Linked DNA regions of Homo sapiens: region 2 is linked to region 1. Evidence: fine-mapped expression QTL. A gene starts in region 1. The other region holds a variant in brackets. All regions are shown on one strand. Distances are from middle to middle. Region 1 holds the start of CGAS (cyclic GMP-AMP synthase). Region 2 overlaps CGAS (cyclic GMP-AMP synthase).

Evidence for each region.
Region 2: its variant is fine-mapped to the expression of CGAS in whole blood (INTERVAL, PIP 0.99).

What each region holds. Positions count from the first base shown.
Region 1 is chr6:73,447,430-73,455,731 of GRCh38, reverse strand. CGAS (cyclic GMP-AMP synthase) reads left to right here and starts at 3,435. Exons shown (of 5, transcript NM_138441.3): 1 at 3,435-4,207. The coding sequence starts at 3,551. RefSeq lists an enhancer at 3,154-3,633 and a silencer at 3,804-4,013.
Region 2 is chr6:73,426,319-73,434,653 of GRCh38, reverse strand. CGAS (cyclic GMP-AMP synthase) reads left to right here. Exons shown (of 5, transcript NM_138441.3): 4 at 5,843-5,945. Among named protein-coding and RNA genes, the nearest start is that of CGAS, 22 kb to the left of the region's middle. The variant C/G (reference allele first, on the strand shown) is at 4,880.

The DNA.
Region 1 (8,302 bases):
TTCTGTTGCCCAGGCTGGAGTGCAGTGGCAGGATCTCACTCACTGCAACCTCTGCCTCCTGGGTTCAAGCTATTCTCCTGCCTCAGCCTCCCGAGTAACTGGGATCACAGACATGTGCCATCACACCCGGCTAATTTTTTGTATTTTTAGTAGAGACAAAGTTTCATCATGTAGGCCAGGCTGGTCTTGAACTCCTGATCTCAGAAGATCTAGGGCTCCTGAAGTGCTGGGATTATAGGCATGAGCCACTGCGCCTGACCTCTAATATGCATTTCTATCAGGGGCTTTAGAAATAGATACTTGAAGGCCAGGCAAGGTGGCTCACGCCTGTAATCCCAACACTTTGGGAGGCCAAAGGGGGCAGATCACCTGAGGTCAGGAGTTCGAGACCAGCCTGGTCAACATGGTGAAACCCCGTCTCTACTAAAAAGGTAAAAAAATTAGCTGGGTGTGGTGGCAGGCGCCTATAATCCCAGCTACTCAGGAGGTTGAGGCAGGAGAATCGCTTGAACCCAGGAGGCGGAGGTTACAGAGAGCCGAGATAGCACCATTGCACTCCAGCCTGGACAACAAAAGTGAAACTCCATCTCGAAAAAAAAAAAAAGATATTTGAAAGCCTGTATTGAGATACTCTAGAATCACAACAGCTGAAGCAGTATGAATGATTTAAAATGTAAATGCCAGGTCCGGTGCAGTGGCTCATGCCAGTAACAGCACTTTGGGAGGCTGAGGCGGGCAGATAGCTTGTTGGGGACCAGCCTGGGCAACATGGTGAAACCACATTTCTACAAAACCATACAAAAATTAGCTGGGCATGGTGGGGCACGCCTGTAGTCCCAGCTGCGCAAGAGGCTGAGTCACGAGAATCTCTTGAACCCGGGAGGCGGAGGGTGTGGTGAGCTGAGATTGTACCATTGCACTCCAGCCTGGGCAACAAGAGCAAAACTCCGTCTCAAAAATGAATAAAATAAAATAAAATAAAAAGAGAGAACTTTACACAACTTTTTTTCCCCCTGAGACAGAGTCATTTGCCCTGTCGCCCAGGATGGAGTGCAGTGGTCTGATCTCAGCTCATTACCACCTCCGCTTTCCCGATTCAAGCAATTCTCCCGTCTCAGCCTCCCCAGTAGCTGGGTTTACAAGCATGGCCCACCACACCTGGCTAATTTTTGTATTTTTAGTAGAGATGGGTTTTCACCATGCTGGACAGGCTGGTCTTGAACTCCTGACCTCAAGTGATCCACCCACCTTCGCCTTCCAAAGTGCCGGGATTATAGGCGTGAGTCACCGCACCAGGCAGAAACTTTACACAACATTTTAAAGATTTTCTGTGCTTTTTAAAAAATGTCAAATAGAAGTATTTACTCCAATTGCAGTCAATCTTTGTTTCATTCCATCTTGTAAAAGTTGAATATTTTCTCTTTCTTATTTTTTTCTTTTTTCAAAGTATTTTTCATTTGTTATTAATTTTTTTCTTTTTAAAAATTATTATTTTATTTCTTATTGATTTTTAAAAAACCCTATTTAAATTTACATTGAAAAAGTTGGCCGGGCGCTGAGGCTCATGCCCGTAATCCCAACAGTTTGGGAGGCCGAGGCAGGTGGATCACGAGATAAGGAGTCCCAGACCAGCCTGGCCAATATGGTGAAACTCCTTTCTACTAAAAATACAAAAATTAGCCGGGCATGGCGGCGCACACCTGTAGTCCCAGCTACTTCGGAGGCTGAGGCAGGAGAATCGCTTGAATCCGGGAGGCAGAGGTTACAGTGAGCCGAGATCGTGCCACTGCACTCCAGCCTAGGGGACAGAATGAGACTCCATCTCAGGAAAAAAAAAAAAAAAAAGGGAAAAGTTTCTGGCCAGGCGCCGTGGCTCACGCCTGTAATCGCAGCACTTTGGGAGGCCGAGGCGGGTGGATCACTTGAGGTCAGCAGTTTGAGAGCAGCCTGGCCAACATAGCGAAACCCCGTCTCTACTAAAAATACGAAAAATTAGCCGGGCGTGGTGGCGGGCGTCTGTAATCCCAGCTACCCGGGAGGCTGAGGTAGGAGAATTGCTTGAACCCAGGAGGCAGAGGTTGCAGTGAGCCAAGATCGCACCATTGCACTTCGGCCTGGGTGACAAGAGCGAAATTCTGTCTCAAAAAAAAAAAAAAAAAAAAAGAAAGAAAGAAAGAAAAGAAAAAGAAAAAAAAGAAAAGAAAAAGTTTCTGTGGCAGGGCACAGTGGCTCATGCCTACAATCCCAACACTTTGGGAGGTTGAGGAGGGAGAATCGCTTGAGTCTAGGAGTTCGAGACCAGCCTGGGCAACATAGTGAGACCTCCCCATGTATACAAAAAAATTAAAAAGAAAAGAAAAAGCTGGGCATGGTGTCCGCACCTGTAGTAACAGCTACTCAGGATGCTGAGGTGGGAGGATCGCTTGAGCCCTGGTGGCTGAGGTTGCAGTGAGCCGAGATTGCGCCCCCCTAACTCAAACCAAAATTAAATTTAAAAAAACTTTCACTTGAAAGAGAAAAGTTTCTCTGTCAATGTTTTTGTTTTGTTTTGTTTTGTTTTGTGATGGACTCTTTTTCTGTTGCCCAGGCTGGAGTGCAGTGGCGCGATCTCGGCTCACTGCAACCTCTGCCTCCCGGGTTCAAGCAGTTCTCTGTCTCGGCCTCCCGAGTAGATGGGACTACAGGCGCCACCAAGCCCGGCTAATTTTTTGTATTTTTAGTAGAGACGGGGTTTCACCATGTTGGCCAGGAAGGTCTCGATGTCTTGGCCTCGTGATCCGCCCGCCTCGGCCTCCCAAACTGCTGAGATTACAGGCGTGAGCCACCACGCCTGGCCTCTTTTTCTTTTTTGAGACAGAGTCTCGCTCTGTCGCCCAGGCTGGAGTGAAGTGGCACGTCTCAGCTCACTGCAACCTCCGCCTCCCGGGTTCAAGTGATTCTCCAGCCTCAGCCTCCCGAGTAGCTGGGATTACAGGTGCCCGCCACCACGCCTAGCTAATATTTGTATTTTTTAGTAGAGACGGGGTTTCTTTCGCCTTGTTGGCCAGGCTGGTCTTGAACTCCTGACCTCAGGTGATCCGCCCACCTCGGTCTCCCAGATTGCTGGGATTACAGGCGTGAGTCAGTGTGCCCAGGCAACACACACACACACATATATTTAATTATAAGAAAGACCAGGTCTTGCTGGGTTGCCCAGGCTGGTCTCAAACTCCTGAGCTCAAGCGACCCGCCTGCCTCGGCCTCTCGGATGCTGAGGTTACAGGCGTGAGCCACCGCGCCCGGCCCTACCTCATCTTCTTAAGACAGGGGCACGGATTGCCTGGAGAGTTAGAAACTTCGAGACTTTTGTAGCCTCAGGAAAGGCCGCGGCCAGCCTCTTCGCGGCATGGGCGTGGCTCCCAGCGACTTCCCAGCCTGGGGTTCCCCTTCGGGTCGCAGACTCTTGTGTGCCCGCCAGTAGTGCTTGGTTTCCAACAGCTGCTGCTGGCTCTTCCTCTTGCGGCCTTTTCCTGAAACGGATTCTTCTTTCGGGGAACAGAAAGCGCCAGCCATGCAGCCTTGGCACGGAAAGGCCATGCAGAGAGCTTCCGAGGCCGGAGCCACTGCCCCCAAGGCTTCCGCACGGAATGCCAGGGGCGCCCCGATGGATCCCACCGAGTCTCCGGCTGCCCCCGAGGCCGCCCTGCCTAAGGCGGGAAAGTTCGGCCCCGCCAGGAAGTCGGGATCCCGGCAGAAAAAGAGCGCCCCGGACACCCAGGAGAGGCCGCCCGTCCGCGCAACTGGGGCCCGCGCCAAAAAGGCCCCTCAGCGCGCCCAGGACACGCAGCCGTCTGACGCCACCAGCGCCCCTGGGGCAGAGGGGCTGGAGCCTCCTGCGGCTCGGGAGCCGGCTCTTTCCAGGGCTGGTTCTTGCCGCCAGAGGGGCGCGCGCTGCTCCACGAAGCCAAGACCTCCGCCCGGGCCCTGGGACGTGCCCAGCCCCGGCCTGCCGGTCTCGGCCCCCATTCTCGTACGGAGGGATGCGGCGCCTGGGGCCTCGAAGCTCCGGGCGGTTTTGGAGAAGTTGAAGCTCAGCCGCGATGATATCTCCACGGCGGCGGGGATGGTGAAAGGGGTTGTGGACCACCTGCTGCTCAGACTGAAGTGCGACTCCGCGTTCAGAGGCGTCGGGCTGCTGAACACCGGGAGCTACTATGAGCACGTGAAGGTGAGCTGCTTGGCGCCCTCCCGCCGAGCCCCGCTGCTCGGCCTTCCGCAATCCGCAGTCCCTACCTTCCCCGGGTCGCGCCCCTCACTTCCCTTCGGAAGTAACTTAGACTTTTGCATGTTTTTCGGTAGCCTAGTCTAAGTAAAACGACAAACCGTTCGTTTATTCATCTACACATCCAACGATCAGACAACCAACCGGTACTGATTGCTGGCTAATTTCAAGACACTGCTCCCGGGGGAATTCAAATGTATGGGTTCATTCATGCAAGCCGACATGTATCGAGTTTCCGTAACAGGGCAGTGTTTGATGGTGTGGACCTGAGGTCCCGAGTCAGATATTGACTTGGATAATTTGAAGTGGTCTGTTAAAAATTCCACGTAGACTTTTTCCTATGAGGAAGACCTCTTACTCCATAGAAAAAAAGATCTTCAGTTTCTCTCCCCCTCTTCCTCCCTGCCCCCTCTCCTGCTATCCCGTCTGACCCCAATTTCTTTTTTTTCTTTTTTCTTTTCTTTTCTTTTTTTTTTTTTTTGAGGCGGAGTCTCGCTGCGTCCCCCAGGCTGGAGTGCAGTGGCGCTATCTCGGCTCACTGCAAGCTCCGCCTCCCGGGTTCACGCCATTCTCCTGCCTCAGCTTCCCGAGTAGCTGGGACTACAGGCGCCCGCCACCATGCCCGGCTAATTTTTTTTGTATTTTTAGTAGAGACGGTGTTTCACCGTGTTAGCCAGGATGGTCTCGATCTCCTGACCTCTTGATTCGCTCGTCTCGGCCTCTCAAAGTGCTGGGATTACAGGCGTGAGCTACCGCGCCCGGCCGTCTGTCCCCAGTTTCTTACACAGAAATCATGGGAAGCTTACAGTATAATGTTAAACAAACAAATAAGAATATCTCCTACAGATACTAAAACGCTTTCTAGATACACATTCCGTATAATTGCTTCGACGTGTGTATTACACAGCTCCATTTGCTTGTGGGTGATTGAGTCATTAATCATTCCTGTGTAAATTGAAAGTTTAGAAGCAGGTTCCTGACTGGAGCGTGTTTCTTGCCCAGCAAGAGATTTGTTTCTTTTTCTTTTTCTTTCTTTCTTTCTTTTTTTTTTTTTTGAGACGGAGTTTCGCTCTTGTTACCCAGGCTGGAGTGCAATGGCGCGATCTCAGCTCACCTCAACCTCCACCTCCCAGGTTCAAGCGATTCTCCTGTCTCAGCCTCCTGAGTAGATGGGATTACAAGCATGAGCCTCCACCCTGGCTAATTTTGTATTTTTAGTAGAGACGGGCTTTCTCCATGTTGGTCAGGCTGGTCTAGAACTCCCGACCTCAGGTGATCTGCCAGCCTCAGCCTCCCAAAGTGCTGGGATTACAGGCGTGAGCCACCACACCCGGCTTCTTTTCTCTTCTTTTTTCTCTTCTCTTCTCTTCTCTCTATCTCTCTGTCTCTCTCTTTTCCTCCCTCCCTCTCTTCCTCTCTCTCTCTCTCTCTTTATTTTGTTCTTTCTTTCTTTTCTTTCTTCTTTCTTCTTTTTTTGATGGAGTTTCACTCTTGTTGCCCAGGCTGTAGTGCAGTGGTGCCATCTAGGTTTCGCTGCAACCTCCGGCTTCCAGGTTCAAGCGATTCTCCTGCTTCAGCCTTCCAAATAGCAGGGATTACAGGTGCCTGCCCCCACTCCCGGCTAATTTATGTATTTTTAGTAGAGACGGGGTTTCACCATGTTGGCCAGGCTGGTCTCGAACTCTGACCTCAGATGATCCACCTGCCTCGGCCTCCCTAAGTGCTGGGATTACAGGCTTGAGCCACGGCACCCAGCCCAGACTGTGTCTTGAGCATGATTCTTTTTAATTAACTAATTTACTTTTCAGCATCAGATATGTCTCTGATTGAGCATGATTCTTATTATGTAAGTATCAATTCAGTTCAATTACTGTATATGGCGGGTCCAAAGGAAAAAGAAAGTTACTAGTTAGAATTAGAGAACAAGACATTCAGAAGACAGTCTCCATTCAGAACCACTTTGTGTGTGTGTGTGTGTGTGTGTGTGTGTGTGTTTGAGACAGAGTCTCACTCTGTCACCCAGGCTGGAGTGCAGTGGCGCGATCTCGGCTCACTGCAAGCCCTGCCTACTGGGTTCACACCATTCTCCTGCCTCAGCCTCCCAAGTAGCTGGGACTACAGGCGCCCGCCACCATGCCCAGCTAATTTTTGTATTTTTAGTAGAGACGGGGTTTCACCGTGTTAGCCAGGCTGGTCTCTATCTCCTGACCTCATGATCTTCCCGCCTTGGCCTCCCAAAGTGCTGGGATTACAGGTGGGAGCCACCATGCCCAGCCCAGAACCACTTTGTTTTTAAAAATTATGCCAATGAAAAGAAATCCAGTGAAATTTGTTTTATCTAAAACTTTTTCTTTTTTTCTTTTTCTTTTTTCTTTTTTTTTGGGGATGGAGTCTTGCTCTGTCACCCAGGGTGGAGTGCAGTGATGTGATCTTGGCTCACTGTAACCTCCGCCTCCCGGGTTCAAGTGAGTCTCCTGCCTCAGCCTCCAGAGTAACTGGGATTACAGGCGGGCGTCACCTCACCTGGCTAATTTTGTATTTTTAGTAGAGATAAGGTTTCAGCATGTTGGCCAGGCTGGTCTCGAACTCCTGACCTCAAGTGATCCACCTGCATCAGCCTTTCAAAGTGCTGGGATTACAGGCGTGAGCCACTACACCCAGCCTAAAACTTTTTCTATTACTGATTATGAGATATATGTGGGCCAGGTACAGTGGACTCATGCCTGTGATCCTAGCACCATGGGAGGCTGAGGCGGGAGTTTGAGTCCAGCCTGGACAACATAGTGAGACCCCAGCTCTACCAAAAATAAGTTAAAAATTAACTGGATGTGGTGGCACACACAGGTAGTCCCAGCTACCTGGGACTACAAATTCTAGGTAAAAAAAAATCTCGAAAATACATGGGAAGTTTCTTGTAGAAATTCCCTGTAGAATTGTCAGTCCATATGTTCTTTTCATTCTAAGTGTTAATGTACTTTACTATTTATATAGTTTGGACTCAGTGAAAAGGTTACATAGAAATCAATTAATTGTAGTTTTTTTTGTTTGTTTGTTTTTTGTTTTGTTTTGTTTTGAGACAGAGTTTCACTCTTGTTGCCTGGGCTGGAGTACAATGGCGTGGGTGGCCTCAGCTCACTGCAACCTCTGCCTCCCAGGTTCAAGCGATTCTCCTGCCTCAGCCTCCCGAGTAGCTGGGATTACAGGAATGCACCACCATGCCTGGCTAATTTTTTGTGTTTTTAGTAGAGATGGGGTTTCTCCATGTTGGTAAGGCTGGTCTCAAACTCCTGACCTCAGGTGATCCACCCGTCTCAGCCTCCCAAAGTACTGGGATTACAGGCGTGAGCCACTGTGCCCGGCCAGTGGTTTTAAGTAATGGTATATTAACTGGTAAAGAAAAGGAACAAACTACAGCAACATGAACAGTGAAAATGAATTACATAAATAATGTTGAACAACAACAAAAAGAACGTAAAGGAATACATACAGCTGATGCAGCAAGACAAGGAAAATAAAGGCATAAGATGGGAAAAAGAGTGATGAAATCGTTATGTGTAGATGACTTGATTGGCTTCACATATAAACTGTTGGAAATAATTAGTAAATTAGCAAAATTGCTGGTTGCAAAGTCAATAAACAAAAATAAAAATATTTCAATATACTAACAAGATTAAAAACAAAATGAAAATACCATTTAGAATATCATCAAAAATATCAAACCTAGGTCCATTGGTGCATTCTGATAGTCCCAGCTATTTGGGAGGCCGAGGTGGGAGAATCACATCAAGTCAGGAGTTTGAGGCTGCAGTACACTATGATCTATCTGTGAGTAGCCACTGTACTCCAGCCTAGAGACCCCATCTCTAAAAAATAAAAATTGAAAACTTTGGCCAGGCATGGTGGCTCACGCCTATAATCCCAGCACTTTGGGAGTAGAGGCAGGCAGATCACTTGAGGTCAGGAGTTTGAGACCAGCCTGGTCAACATGGCAAAACCCTGTCTCTACTAAAACTACAAAAATTAGCTGGGCGTGTTGGTGCG
Region 2 (8,335 bases), 21 kb after region 1:
TATACTTTATCCAGATTTCCTTAGTTTTTCTTAATGTCCTTTTACTGTTCCAAGATCCCATTTAGGATACCATATTGCATTTAGTTGTCATGTCTCCTTAAGCTACTCTTGACTGTGACAGTTTTTTGGTTTTAACAGTTTTGAGGAGTACTAGTTAGGTATTTTGTAGAATGTCCTTTACTTGAGATTTCTTTATTATGTTTCTTATGATTAGATCAGAGTTATTGGTTTGGGGGAGGAAGGTCACAGAGGCAAAGTGCCATCCTTATCAAATTTTATCAACGGTACGTGCCACCTTTCTTTACAGTCATGTACAGTTGACCCTCAGGATTGGCTCCAGGGTACCCTGCAGACACCGAAGTCCACAGATGCTCAAATCCCTTACATAAAATGATATAATACAGTTGGCCCTCCATATCTGTGGGTTTCAATTCACGATTGGTTGAATTCTCAGATGTGAAACCCTCAGATACAGAGGGCCAACCGTATTGTGTAGCTATCCCTGAACTCTTTATTCTGTCCCATTAAAATCTTTGTCTATCTTTGTACCATGTTGTTGTACATAATGTAGCTTTATAATTAGTCTCAATATCTTTTAGGGCAAGTTCTACCACTTCGTTTTTCTCCAAGGGTGTCTGAGAGAGTCTTGACCCTTTACATTCTCATATAAATTTTGAAATCAGCTTTTCAGATTCCACAAAATACTTTTTGGAATTTTGATTGAGATAATGTTGAATCTATAGATAAATTTGGGGCCAGGAATGATGACTTATGCCTGTAATTCCAGCACTTCAGAAGGCTGAGGAAGGAGAGTTGCTTTAGGTGAGGGGTTCAAGACCATCTTGGACAACACTGTGTAAAAACTCTAGCCAGGCGTGGTGGCTCACGCCTGTAATCCCAGCACTTTGGAAGGCCAAGGTGAGTGGATTACGAGGTCAAGAGATCGAGACCATCCTGGCCAACATGGTAAGACCCCATTTCTACTAAAAATACAAAAATTAGCTGGGCATGGTGGCACGTGCCTGTAGTCCTAGCTACTCGGGAGGCTGAGGCAGGAGAATCGCTTGAACCCAGGAGGCAGAGGTTGCAGTGAGCCAAGATCACGCCATTGCACTCCAGCCTGGTGACAGAGAGAGACTCCGTCTCAAAAAAAAATTAAAAAAAAAAAACTCTCTATAAAAGTTTTTATAGAGAGTTGTGAGTCTTCATCTCTATAAAAACTTTTTAAAAATTAGCCAGGCGTGGTGGTGTGCACTTGTAGCTTGTAGTCTTAGTTACGCAAGAGAATCACTTAAGCTCAGGAGTTCGAGGTTACAGTGAGCTATGATCTTGCCACTGCACTCCAGCCTGGGCAACATAACAAGACACTGTCTGTATTAAAAAAAAAAAACATGGGAGAGAGTTGATATGTTAACAATATTGAGTCTCCCAATCCACTTATTTACATCTCCTCTAATACTTCCCAGCTTCATTCATTAGCATTTTCTCTGCAGAGGTTTTGTATATCTTTTGTTAATTTATTCATAGGTAATTGATCTATTTTAAAACTATTTATTTATTTATTTATTTTGAGATGGAGTCTCGCTCTGTCACCCAGGCTGGAGTGCAGTGGTGCGATCTCGGCTCACTGCACCCTCCACCTCCTGGGTTCAAGCGATTCTCCTGCCTCAGCCTCCTGAGTAGCTGGGATTACAGGTGCCCACCACCGTGTCTGGCTAGTTTTTGTATTTTTAGTAGAGATAGGGTTTCACCATGTTGTCCAGGCTGCTCTCAAACTCCTGACCTCAGGTGATCTGCTCACCTCGGCCTCCCAAAGTACTGGGATGACAGGCGTGAGCCACCGCGCCTGGCCAAAACTTTTTATTATGAAAATTTTAAACCAGTACCAAAGGAGACTGGGCCAGGAGTGTTGGCTCATGCTTGTAATACCAGCATTTTGGGAGGCTGAGGTGGGTGGATCACTTGAGCCCAGGAGTTCAAGCCTGGGCCACGTGACAAAACCCTGTCTCTTCAAAAAATACAAAATAAATTAGCTGGGTGTGGTAATATGCACCTGTTGTCCCAGCTATTTGGGGGGCTGAGGTGGGAGAATCACTTGAGTCTAGGAGGTTGAGGCTTCTGTGAGCCGAGATCATGTCACTGCGCTCCAGCCTGGGTGACAAAGTGAAACCTTGTCTTAAAAAAATAATCAATGACTGGGAGCGGTGGCTCACACCTGTAATCCAAGCACTTTGGGAGGCCAAGGCGGGTGGGTCACCTGAGGTCAGGAGTGCGAGACCAGCCTGGCCAACATGGTGAAACCCCATCTCTACTAAAAATACAAAATTAGCCGGGCATGGTGGCGCATGCCTGTAATCCCAGCTACTCAGGAGGCTGAGGCAGGAGAATCACTTGAACCTGGAAGGCAGAGGTTGCAGTGAGCTGAGATGGTGTCACTGCACTCCAGCCTGGGCAACAGAGCGAGACTCAATCTCAAAAAATAAAAATAAATAAAAATAAATGTATAAACAAATAATAATTTTCTTATATTAGCTGGGCACAGTGGCTCACAGCTGTAATTCCAGCACTTTGGGAGGTGGGAGGATTGCTGGACCCCAGGAGTTTGAGATCAGCCTGGGCAAGGTGGAGAGACCCCGTCTCTACAAAAAAATCCAAAAATTAGCCAGCCATGGTGATGTATGCTTCTGGTCCCGCTATTGGAACGGCTAACATGAGAAGATTGCTTGAGGCTGGGAAGTCGAGGTTTCAGTGAGCTGTGTTCACGCACTCCAGCCTGGGTGATAGAGGGAGATCTTGTCTCAAAAAATGAAAGAAAAAAGTAATAATTCCCTAATATCAAACACCTATTCAGTATTAAAATTTCCGCTTGTCTTGTAAGTGTCATACTTTTTTTGTATGTTTGGATCAGTCTGTTTGGATCAGGATTCAAATAAGGTTCATACATTGTGACTGACCAATATGTCTGTTAAATCTCTTTTAACTCATAACTTCCTCTTTCATAACTTTTTTATTCCTTGAATAAAATTTACTCAATTTACTTCAATTTACTCATTGAAGAAACAGGTTATTTTTCCTGTAGAGTTTCCCAAAGAGAGTTTGTAGAGTGCATTCTAGAAGTGTCGTTTAGCATGTTCTGCTTTCATCCATATTTCTTTTTGTTGTTGTTGTTGTTTTGTTTTTTTGAGAGGGAGTTTTGCTCTTGTTGCCCAGTCTGGAGTGCAATCGCCCGATCTTGGCTCACTGCAACCTGCGCCTCCCAGGTTTAAGTGATTCTCCTGCCTTAGCCTCCAGAGTAGCTGGGATTACAGGCTTGTGCCACCATGCCCGGCTAAATGTTTGTATTTTTAGTAGAAATGGGGTTTCACCATGTTGGTCCGGCTGGTCTCGAACTCCTGACCTCAGGTGATCCACCGCCTCAGCCTCCCAAAGTGCTGGGATTACAGGAGTGAGCCACTGTGCCTGGCCTCATCCATATTTCATTAGCAGTTAGATCTAGAAGGTAACTGTTGGGTGTTTTTTTTTGTTTGTTTTTTGTTTTTGTTTTTGTTTTTTGAGACTGAGTCTCACTCTGTCATCCAGGCTGGAGTGCAATGGCATGATCTTGGCTCACTGCAACCTCTGCCTCCTGAATTCAAGCGATTCCCCTGCCTCAGCCTCCTGAGTAGCTGGGATTACAACTGTGTGCCACAATGCCTGGCTAATTTTTGTATTTTTAGTAGCGACGGAGTTTCGCCATGTTTGCCAGGCTGCTCTTGAACCCCATATCTCAGGTGATCTGCTCACCTCGGCCTCCCACGGTGCTGGGATTACAGGCATGAGCCACTGCACCTGGCCTAATTGCTAGTTTTTATACTATTGTAAGTAACATCTTTCTCAAAATTTCATTTTTTGTTTATTACCATATATCAAAATACCTTTGATTTTTGTATCCACAATCTTGGTAACTCTTTTAATTGATTTGGTGAGTTTATTTACATAATTTTTTTTTTCTTTTTTCATTTTCTTTCTTTTTTGAGATGGAGCCTCGCTCTGTTGTCCAGGCTGGAGTGCAGTGGCGTGATCTCGACTCACTGCAACCTCGGCATTCCGGGTTCAAGGGATTCTCCTGCCTCAGCCTCCCAAGTAGCTGGGACTATATACAAATACATACATACATGTGGTATGTGTAGGCACACGCCACCACACTGGCTAAGCTAATCTTTCTATTTTTAGTAGATATGGTGTTTCACCATGTTGGCCAGGCTGGTCTCCTGTCTCGGCCTCCTGAAGTGCTGGGATTACAGGCGTGAACCACCATGCCCAGCATTGTAGATTCTTTTGTATTTCCTATATATGCAATTACATCACCTATGAATAATGATGGCTTTGTTTCTCCCTTTCCAGTGTGTAACCCTGTTTTTCCTTCCCTTACTGTGCTTGCTATGACACCCAGTGCATGTTGAACAGAAATAGAGATAGCAGATGTTTTGCCTTCTTTCTGATTTCTCTCTCCAACTTTTTACCTCACATAATGATTGTTGCTATAGTTTTCTAAAATCTACCTTTTATGGAATCAAGTGTCCATCTAGACTTAGATTGCTAAGAGGTGTTTTTTTAATGATGAACGACTATAGGATTTTAAGAGCTTCATTTTCTTCATCTATTGAGACAATCATGTATTTCTCCTCTATTCTGTTAATGTGACAGATTATATTGATTGATTTTTCTGAAAAATCATTCAGATTATAAACTACTTATACTTTGCTAGTATAAAACCACGAAGTAACAGGGTGGTCAGAGCATAAAAGAGCTAGCCATGGTAAGACTCGGGGAGAAATTTTTTTTTTTTGAGACAGAGTCTTGTGCTGTTGCCCAGGCTGGAGTGCAGTGGCGCGATCTC[C/G]GCTCACTGCAAGCTCCACCTCCCGGGTTCGCGCCATTCTCCTGCCTCAGCCTCCCAAGTAGCTGGGATTACAGGCGCCCGCCACCACGCCCGGCTAATTTTTTGTATTTTTGGTAGAGGCAGGGTTTCACTGTGTTAGCCAGGATGGTCTTGATCTCCCGACCTTGTGATCCGCCCACCTTGGCCTCCCAAGGTGCTGGGATTACAGGCGTGAGCCACCGCGCCCAGGTGAAATCATTCTATATTTACACAAACTCTCATAAATAAGAATAAAGGAAATGGTCCCCAATTCATTTTGTATTAATATAAAACCTGTAAGGATGGTACAGAAAAAGTGAATAAATTGATTCAAATTATTATTGAAACAAAATATTTAACAAAGGGAATTTAGCAATATATAAAAGGTAATACATCTTACTATTGCTAACTATATTAAACTGTGACTTCCTTTTTTTTTCGGTTAGGCCCATTTTTTGTCTCAGTGTACTTATTTTTATACATAATTATTTATCTGTTCACTTCTTTTGATTCACTCCTAAGATTTTTTCAGAATATTTTCTTTTTCTTTCTTTCTTTTTTTTTTTTTGATGGAGTTTTGCTCTTGTTGCCCAGGCTGGAGTGCAATGGTGCAATCTCGGCTCACTGCAACCTCCACCTCCCAGGTTCAAGTGATTCTCCTTCCTCAGCCTCCCGAGTAGCTGGGATTACAGGCATGTGCCACCATGCCAGGATAACTTTTTTTTGTATTTTTGGTAGAGATGGGTTTCTCCATGTTGGTCAGGCTGGTCTCGAACTCCCGACCTCAGGTGACCCACCCTCCTCGGCCTCCCAAAGTACTGAGATTACAGGCGTGAGCCCCCATGCCCAGCCCCAGGATATTTTCATGAGGGAAACCACTTGAATATTGTTTAGATATGGATGCTTTGGGTAAAGTGCTTTTTTGTTTTTCTTTTTGAAATTAAGAAGAAACATGGCGGCTATCCTTCTCTCACATCGAAAAGGAAATTTTGAACAATCATGGAAAATCTAAAACGTGCTGTGAAAACAAAGAAGAGAAATGTTGCAGGTAACAGCCTTATTTTGTTAAATGACAGATTATCTATGGTATGCTTAATTATTTGTTGACTCCACACCTCAGACCTGAAGAGCTGAGCTGGGTTGGGTCTGGGGGGCAGGGCAGGATTGGGTTGAGCTGGGGAGAGTGTGAGTATGAAACCAGAGAAGCTAGATCCAAAGGGCCAAGGAAAGGGTGTTGTTAGAAGGCAAGGCCGGGGAATAGTAGTTCTGAACCCTGGATCAGATGAATGTGTTTTTGTATAGATGTATCAGTAGGACAGAGTGAGAGGGTATGAGCACTAGCCATGACAATTCGATGGGTCTTAGTATTCTGCTTGTTTAAAAGTAATGGATATTAATGCCATATAATTGGAGGAGGCCAAAAGGTCGCTCTTATTAGATACTGGGCTTGCTTTGGGATAGTTGGGTTGTGTTGACGGCTAGGGATTGATTGGCCAAACTGAAAACAACACTAAGTGAGTAATTTTTTTTTTTGAGACAGACTTTCACTCTGTCACCCAGACTGGAGTGCAGTGGCACAATTACGGCTCACCACAGCCTCGATCTCCTGGGCTCAAGCAATCATCCTACCTCAGCCCCCCAAGTAGCTGAGATTACAGGTGCATGCCACCATGCTCGGCTAATTTAAAAAAAAATTTTGTAGAGGGCCTGTTGGCTCACACCTGTAATCCCAGCCTAGCAACATGGTGAGACCCCACCTCCATAAAAAATTTAAAAATTAGCCAGGCATGGTGACTGGTGCCTGTGGTCCCAGCTACTTGGAAGGCTGAGGTAGGAGAATGGCTCGAGCCCAGAAAATCAAGGCTGCAGTGAGCCATGATCGTGCCACTGCACTGCAACCTGGGTGACATAGTGACACCCTGTCTCAAAAAAAATTTTTTTTATTGGTAGAGATGGTGGTCTCCCTTTGTTGCCCAGGCAGGCTGGTCACCAACTCCTGGGTTCAAGTAAACTTCCCGCCTTGGCCTCCCAAAGTCTTGGAAGTACGGGGATGAGACACTGCACCCCACCATTTTTTTTTGTGATGGCATACACACCATAAAGAACTAAGATTGAAAAGGAATTGTTCATTTGAGTTTCTAAAGTTGGCCAGTATTGGCCAGGCATGGTGGCTCAAGGCCTGCAATCCCAGCACTTTGGGAGGCCAGGGCAGGTGGATCACCTGAGGTCAGGAATTCGAGACCAGCCTGGCCTACGTGGCGAAACCCCGTCTCTACTAAAAATACAAAAATTAGCTGGGCGCAGTGGCACGTGCCTGTAATCCCCGCTACTCAGGAGGCTGAGGCAAGAGAATCACCTGAACCCGGGAGACAGAGGTTGCAATAAGCTGAGATCATGCCACTGCACTCCAGCCTGGGCAACAGAGCAAGACTCCATCTTAAATAAATAAATAAATAAATAAATAAATAAATAAATAAAGTAAGTTGGCCAGTATAAAGATCACAAAAGTTAAAAAGTCAAAACAAAAATGCCCAACATGCAGGCACAGAGGTTCTTTAAGATCTCATATGCAGGCTTTGAAGTAAGCATTAAGAAAACTATATTGTTGGCCAGGCACAGTGGCTCACGCCTGTAATCCCAGCACTTTGGGAGGCCGAGGCAGGTAGATCACCTGAGGTCAGGAGTTCGAGACCAGCCTGGCCAACGTTATGAAACCCCGTCTCTACAAAAATGCAAAAATTAGCCGGGCGAGGTGGCATGCACCTGTAATCCCAGCTACTTAGGAGGTTGAGGCAGGAGAATCGCTTGAACCCAGTAGGCAGAGGTTGCGGTGAGCTGAGATCACACCACTGCACTCCAGCCTGGGCAACAGAGCGAGACTCCATCTCAAAAAAAAAGGAAAAAGAAAAAAAAAAAGAAATATTGTTGATAAGGCTAAATAGTTTCATAAATAGTACATTTTGTCAACTACTAAATAACTAGATGAGATGGCAGATTATCTATGGTACTCTTAATAATGTAAATAATTCTGTGATACAATCAGTGGATTTTAGAAAAGAAAAAATTTATATTAAATTTGCAGTTCAATAAAGTAAAATAATTTTATAACAAAACAAGATTTTGGATCGCTTGAGGGGGGTGAGGGGAGGGTCAGAGGTTGCAGTGAGCCGAGATTGTATCACTGCATCCCAGCCTGGGTGACAGAGTGAGACCCTGTCTCAAAAAAAAAAAAAATAGTATAAATATCTGTTAGCTTTATACAGTTGAAGAAATTCATAGAATATATTTAAGCTAAGAATGGGAAAGAGAGGGAAAAAATGTGTTTTTGAAACTTCAAACCATATATTTGAAAACATAATCAGATTTTAGTGTGACTGTTGTATTTATTTTATTTTATTTTATTTTATCATTTCATTTCATTTCATTTATTTCATTTTA